Linked DNA regions of Homo sapiens. The protein of the gene in region 1 interacts with the protein of each later gene in a pairwise test. Each region holds a gene or a part of one and is shown on either strand. Other genes may lie near its edges.

Region 1 (3,817 bases):
CCAGGCTCCAGGGACGGCAGGCGTTTCACCTCCTCCAGCCTCCCCTACTGTCCTTTGGGAGCCTGGACCGGAAGCCGGTGAGTCCCTCCATGCTCCCCAAGAAAACAGGGTCCTTCCTTCTGTTTCCTTCCCTCAGCTCTGAGACTGTCTCATGGGGGGCCTCTTGCAAAGAGAAAGGTGGAGAAGAGGAGCACAGGGGCCTCGCCCAGGACACTGAGCTGGGTTCAATGCTCTGCTGTTGCGTCTGGGAGCGTGTGATAATTCTTGAACAAGGGGTCCTAACTTTCGTCATTTACCAAGCCCCCAAAATTCTGTAGCCAGTCCTGGATAAGAGAAAGGATGCTGGGCTGAGAGTCTGCTCTATTCCCAAGCTGCACGGTGTGGCTGTAGGATCCATCATGGGGTACTCAGGCCAGCTTCAAGGAACAGCCCTGCTCAAACATTACCTTTACTTTCCAGAGTCTCTGGTTCTTTAGCAAATGTGATCAATGGTTCTGCCTGCCTCCTTTCATATATATATATATATATTTTTTTTTTTTTTTTTTTTTTTTTTTGAGAGTGGATTTAATTCTGTCACTCAGGCTGGAATGCAGTGGTGTGATCATGGCTCACTGAAGCCTCAACCTCTCAACCTGCAGGCTCAAGTGATCCTCCCACCTCAGCTTCCCAAGTAGCTGGGACTACTAATTTTTTGTATTTTTTTTTTTTGCAGAGATGGGGTTTGCCATGTTGCCTAGGCTGGTCTTGAACTCCTGATCCCAAACCATCTGCCTGCCTCGGCCTCCCAAAGTGCTGGGATTAGAGGCGTGAGCCACCGTGCCTGGTCTCTTTCATGAGTATTGAAAGGACTGTTGTTTTAAAATATAGGTGTTATTATTACTGAGGTATGGTGAGGCCAGGATCTCAGGAGATGACAGCCACTAAAAAGATTGTGACTGACGGTTCTCAAGAGGATGGCGTGCCACACGGGGCCACACAGGGAAGCACCAGGGCCAGGCAGGAGGTAGACGGAGTGAGGGGGAAGCATGGCAGGAATCTTTTATACATTTATTTAGAGACAGGGTCTCACTTGGTTGCCCAGGCTGGAGTGCAGTGGTGTAATCACAGCTCCCTGCAGTCTCAAACTGCTGGGCTCAAGTGATCCTCCCACCTCCGCCTCCTGGGTAACACAGCTGCATGCCACCGAGCCTGGCTATTTTTTTTTTTTTTTTTTTTTTGTAGAGACAGGGCCTCACTATTGTCCAGGTTGGTCTCAAACTCCTGGCCTTAGGTGATCCTCCTGTCTTGGCCTCCCTAAGTGCTGGGATTATAGGCGTGAGCCACCCGGCCAGGTGCAGGGGTCTTTCTTGTGTTTTTTGCAGGAAGGAATAGGTGAGACAGGTTGAGCAGGCTTAGAACTGGCTGGTTTGAAGAATTTCAGTGGGGCCGGTGGGGAGGGTGGCGACTCAGAGGGTTGTCCTTAGTCATCTGGTACTTGGCCCTGGGGCAATGAGGACAGGTGCAGAATGGCCCAGGGTGTGAGAGCCCAGTGGAGAGGGTGGTTTGCACACGAAAGGCATGCTCAAGCCATTTACCATCTCTAGGAATTAGCTAACCCTGGGAGGGGCAGTCCCTCAGGATCAGGAATGCTCCAAGATGTCAAAGCATCAGAAATACAGAAAATAAAAAGGCGTGGTTAACACAGCTGTCTCCTCAAGATGGGAAAAGGCCGAACAAAAGCAGCAACTTATTTTCACCATGATCACCATTCCCAGAGGTCTCGTTCCCCTTTTCCTGAATAATAATATCAGCTAACACTGAACGAGCATGCACTGGCTCCTGGTGACTGATGCTGTTCCCAGTTCTCTCCGTGTCTCAGTCCAGGTGATGCTTACAGCCACTGTGGTGTGGATACTGATAGGTCTCCATGTTACAGATGAGGCAGCACCGCTGAGAAATGGGAGAGCCAGGATTCAAGCAAAAACACTTGTTCCAGGGCGCACGTTCTTTAAAAAACAATTGTGATAAAACATACATGACATAAAGTTTACCATTTTTACCAGTCTTTTTTTTTTTTTTTTTTTAAACAGGGTCTCGCTCTGTCACCCAGGCTGGAGTGCAGTGGCACGATCTTGGCTCACTGCAACCTCCGCCTCCCGGTTCAAGCGATTCTCCTGCCTCAGCCTCCGGAGTAGCTGGGATTACAGGCTGAGCCACTGCACCTGGCCCATGCCTGGCTAATTTTTGTATTTTTAGTAGAGACAGAGTTTCTCCACGTTGGCCAGGCTGGTCTCAAACTCCTGACCTCAGGTGATCTGCCCGCCTGGGCCTCCCACAGTGCTGGAATTAACAGGTGGGAGCCACCGTGCCGGGCCTGCTGCTCCCTGTCTTTTAAAGGACTTCCTCTGAGAAGCCTTCTCCAGCTTCCTCAGGCAGAATTTTTCTCACCTTCTCCTCGTTGTGTGTCTGCCTTGCCCTTTGGGTACTTCCACTACTCCCTTTAGCTCGCTGAGCTGTAATGAAGTGTGTGCATGCTACTTTCCCTGAAGACCGAGAGCTTTTCAAAGCAGAGGCTGTGCCTGACTCATAAACAACAACAAAACACCTTATTATCCCTGGTGGTCTAGTGGTTAGGAAAATAAAATCTAAGAAAGAAGAAAAAAACCCTTATTAAACCAATAATAATGAGAGAAAATTAAGGGTGGTGAACAACTGCATGGAAAAAGACTTATTTTAATTGAGGTGACATTCATGTAACATAAAGTTAACCAGTTTAAGTATACAACTTAAGTGGTATTTATACATTCAAAATGCTGTACAACCACTACTATTTGGCTACTGTGAATGGTGCTGCTATGAACATTCACATACTGGTATCTGTGTGAATACCTGTTTTCAGTTTATTCTGGGTATATCCCTAGTAGCAGACTTTCTAGATTATATGGTAATTTGATGTGTAGCTTTTTGAGGATCCTCCAAACTCTGCCTGACTCATTATCCCTCATGCCTAATGCAGAAAATGGCACAAAAAAGGCCTCATGAAATACTTGCTGCCTGGAGGAAAGGATGGATGAATGGAGGGAAGGCCTAGATGGATGAGTGGAAAGGAAGATGGGGGGAGGGAAAGGTGGATGAAGAGTCAGGAGGCTGGGCGGCTTCCCCGACTCTAATTCTTTGGGTCTCTTCTACCCCAGGGTCCCCCCAGCTGCGCCTGGTGGCTGGGCCCAGCAAGTGCTCAGGTCGACTGGAGGTGTGGCATGACCAGCGCTGGGGGACCGTGTGTGACGATAGCTGGGACATGCGGGATTCAGCTGTGGTCTGCCGGGAGCTGGGCTGTGGTGGACCTCAGCAGCCAGACCCTGCTGCTGGCCGCTTTGGCTGGGGTGCGGGCCCCATCTGGCTAGATGATGTGGGCTGTGTGGGGACCGAGGCTTCACTGTCCGACTGCCCTGCTGCTCCCTGGGGAAAGCACAACTGCGCTCACAATGAGGATGTTGGGGTCACCTGCACTGGTAAGGAGGCCCTAGCTATCTGTTGACTCCAGGAGGGCTTCCTGGAGGGGAACAGTAACTAACATGGGCACTAACATTGATTGAGTGCTTCCTAAGCCCCAGCCCTGTGCTGGGTGTTTTTGCACATATAACCACATTGAAATCACATAATAAGTCTAGGGTGGTGTGTGTTATGCCCATTTTACTGATAAAGAAGCTGAGGCACAGAGAGGTTGGGTAACTTGCTCAAGATCACACAGCAACAACTAACTGGCAGATCTGGGATTCCCACTCAGAGAAGCTTCTGCTTCCTCTTCCTTCCAGGAATCAAGGAAATTTCCCACTAA
Region 2 (3,407 bases), 5.6 Mb from region 1:
GGATCGGTGCTTCAAAGCTCAACTTGAGCAACACAGCTGCCACCCCAGCCATGGCAAACCCCAGCGGCTTTGGGCTGGGCAGCAGCAACCTCACTAATGCCATATCGAGCACCGTCACCTCCAGCCAGGGCACAGCACCCACCGGCTTTGTGTTTGGCCCCTCCACCACCTCTGTGGCTCCAGCTACCACATCTGGAGGCTTCTCATTCACTGGTGGAAGCACGGCCCAACCCTCCGGTTTCAACATTGGCTCAGCAGGGAATTCAGCCCAGCCCACGGCACCTGCCACGTTGCCCTTCACTCCGGCCACGCCAGCAGCCACCACAGCAGGTGCCACACAGCCAGCTGCTCCCACACCCACAGCCACCATCACCAGCACTGGGCCCAGCCTCTTTGCGTCAATAGCAACTGCTCCAACCTCATCTGCCACCACTGGACTCTCCCTCTGTACCCCTGTGACCACAGCGGGCGCCCCCACTGCTGGGACACAGGGCTTCAGCTTAAAGGCACCTGGAGCAGCTTCCGGCACCTCCACAACAACATCCACCGCTGCCACCGCCACCGCCACCACCACCAGCAGCAGCAGCACCACCGGCTTTGCCTTGAATTTAAAACCACTGGCGCCAGCCGGGATCCCCAGCAATACAGCAGCTGCCGTGACCGCTCCACCTGGCCCTGGCGCAGCTGCAGGGGCGGCTGCCAGCTCCGCCATGACCTACGCGCAGCTGGAGAGCCTGATCAACAAATGGAGCCTGGAGCTAGAGGACCAGGAGCGGCACTTCCTCCAGCAGGCCACCCAGGTCAACGCCTGGGACCGCACGCTGATCGAGAATGGAGAAAAGATCACCAGCCTGCACCGCGAGGTGGAGAAGGTGAAGCTGGACCAGAAGAGGCTGGACCAGGAGCTCGACTTCATCCTGTCCCAGCAGAAGGAGCTGGAAGACCTGCTGAGCCCACTGGAGGAGTTGGTCAAGGAGCAGAGCGGGACCATCTACCTGCAGCACGCGGATGAGGAGCGTGAGAAAACCTACAAGCTGGCTGAGAACATCGATGCACAGCTCAAGCGCATGGCCCAGGATCTCAAGGACATCATCGAGCACCTGAACACGTCCGGGGCCCCCGCCGACACCAGTGACCCACTGCAGCAGATCTGCAAGATCCTCAATGCGCACATGGACTCACTGCAGTGGATCGACCAGAACTCGGCCCTGCTGCAGAGGAAGGTGGAGGAGGTGACCAAGGTGTGCGAGGGCCGGCGCAAGGAGCAGGAGCGCAGCTTCCGGATCACCTTTGACTGAGCGACAGCAGCCCTGGGGCCCGCAGGTCCCTAGGGAGTTCATGAGGGGAATGCGCCCTGTTGTCTGTAGTTTGGGGTTGTGGCAAGATACTTGTTTGTTTGTTTCTTTCTTTCACATGACTGCCCTTGACATGATCGCTGTGTGCTTTGCGTTTTTCCATTTAGGAGGGTATTCTGGGCCTTCTGCCCAGGCAGCAGCCTCATGGGTGTGGCTTCTGTGGCTTTCATTTGAGTATCTTTGGCCCCTTTTCACCTACTGCGACCACCCACCTCATCCTGGCTCAGCCTGGTGATGGAGAAGTGCTGATGGTCTTGGTCCCAGCCAGGGTCGTGGGGGCAGCCACTCTCTCCAAAGCATAGTCATAGGTGTCATGAAAAAATACCAAATGTAAGAGAACCTCCAAGTCAGGGCGCAGTGGCTCACCCCTGTAATCTCAGCACTTTGGGTGGCCAAGGCGGGCAGATGACTTGAGGTCAGGAGTTCGAGACCAGCCTGGCCAACATGGTGAAACCCCGTCTCTACTAAAAATACAAAAATTAGTCAGGTGTGGTGGACGCCTGTGATCTCAATCTCAGCTACTCGGGAGGCTGAGGCAGGAGAATCACTTGAACCCAGGAGGTGTTGCAGTGAACCAAGATCACACCACTGCACTCCAGCCTAGGCAACAGAGACTCTGTCTCAAAAAAAAAAAAAAAAAAAAAGAAACTCCCAGGAGACAGCAGCCTAGTTTTCGAGTGTGAGCTTGTGCTTGTGAAAGCTAACCATGCTAACCACCAAGGCAAAGCAGCACAGTGTGAATAGAACAGAGCGGGATCAAGAATTTCACAGAAGACAGGTCAGCTGAGGGGCCTGCACACACAGGGTGTTGAGGAACCACAGATGGGCGCCGAGAGGCCTGCCTTTTGCCTGGCCCAGGCTCACCCCCACCTTGGGCCTCACCTCCTCCAGGAAGCCTTCCCAGCTACCCGAAGCTCAGGTGGCCTTCTTGCAGGTCCCCGTAGCACCCTGAGCCTGTACCTTGGGTGGCACTTGTTATGCTATCCTGTGCTAGCCGTTTGTGCCTCGTCTCGCTGTTAGATTGTGAGTTCCCATGGGCAGAGACCCACTGTCGTTCCCCGTGTGTCCCCAGCCCGGTCCCTGTCACATTTGTTAAATGAAAGAACAATGAAGCCCAGTGTAACGTCAGTCCACAGAAATAGCCACAGCTTCCAGTGGTGGCCGTAGACTTGGCTCGGAACTTAGTGGCACCAGAGTAACTCTAGTCAGTTACAGTAAAATCCACTGTGTGTGGAAGGCAGAAGCTAGCGGTTGTATCCCAAGCATCTTTTGTATTTGTCTTTATACTTTGCTGAATTCTCTGAAATACCTATTACTGTATGTTGCTTTTCTAAATAAATGTATTGTGAAACCAAAACAGCTGCTGTTAATATGGATAAATGTTAGGAGGAGAAAGCTGAGTAAAAAGAGCAGGTTCCAGGAGACTCTGCAGGGGTGCCATTCACATGAAACGCACAGGCAAGCAAATGAAGTAGTGCTTGCATAGACATAGGGGTATGCGATGAAGCAGCTTTTGTTTGATGAGACAGAGTAATAGACAAATGCAAATCGTGGTTTGCTCCAGGAAGGGGTGGTGCTAGTGGTAGAAGAGGAACACACGAGTGAAGCCGCCACGGGGAGTGGGCTCCAGGTGTTTTGTGACAGTTATGTCGTAGAATATACACAAATATGGCTGGGCGAGGTGGCTCACACCTGTAATCCCAGCACTTTGGGAGGCCAAGATGGGCAGATCACTTGAGGTCAGGGATTCAAGACCAGCCTGGGCAACATGGTGAAACCCCGTCTCTATAAAAACTACAAAAAAGTTTGGTTGTGCGTGGTGGCACGCAACTGTGGTCCCAGCTACCTGGGAGGCTGAGATGGAAGGATCATTTAAGCCCAGGCCTTTGAGGCTGCAGTGAGCCATGATCACACCACTGCACTCCAGCCTGGGCGACAGAGCAAGACTCTGTCTCAAAAAATATACACACATGTTAAGTCATCTAGTACCATCCCTAAGGCGCTATTCCAGTGGTTACAGATGTCATGGGCAGCATTCCTTCCTGTCACCTG

The links.
Region 2: the proteins of SSC5D (region 1) and NUP62 interact in binary tests that used the Homo sapiens proteins (3 or more experiments, as listed by UniProt).

Annotation. Positions count from the first base shown.
Region 1 is NC_000019.10:55,494,707-55,498,523, forward strand, and holds part of SSC5D (soluble scavenger receptor cysteine-rich domain-containing protein SSC5D isoform 1 precursor), read left to right. Parts: coding exon 1-77; intron 78-3,173; coding exon 3,174-3,491; intron 3,492-3,817.
Region 2 is NC_000019.10:49,906,130-49,909,536, reverse strand, and holds the end of NUP62 (nuclear pore glycoprotein p62), read left to right. Parts: coding exon 1-1,298; 3' UTR 1,299-2,712; downstream 2,713-3,407. UniProt on the Homo sapiens protein: Essential component of the nuclear pore complex. The N-terminal is probably involved in nucleocytoplasmic transport.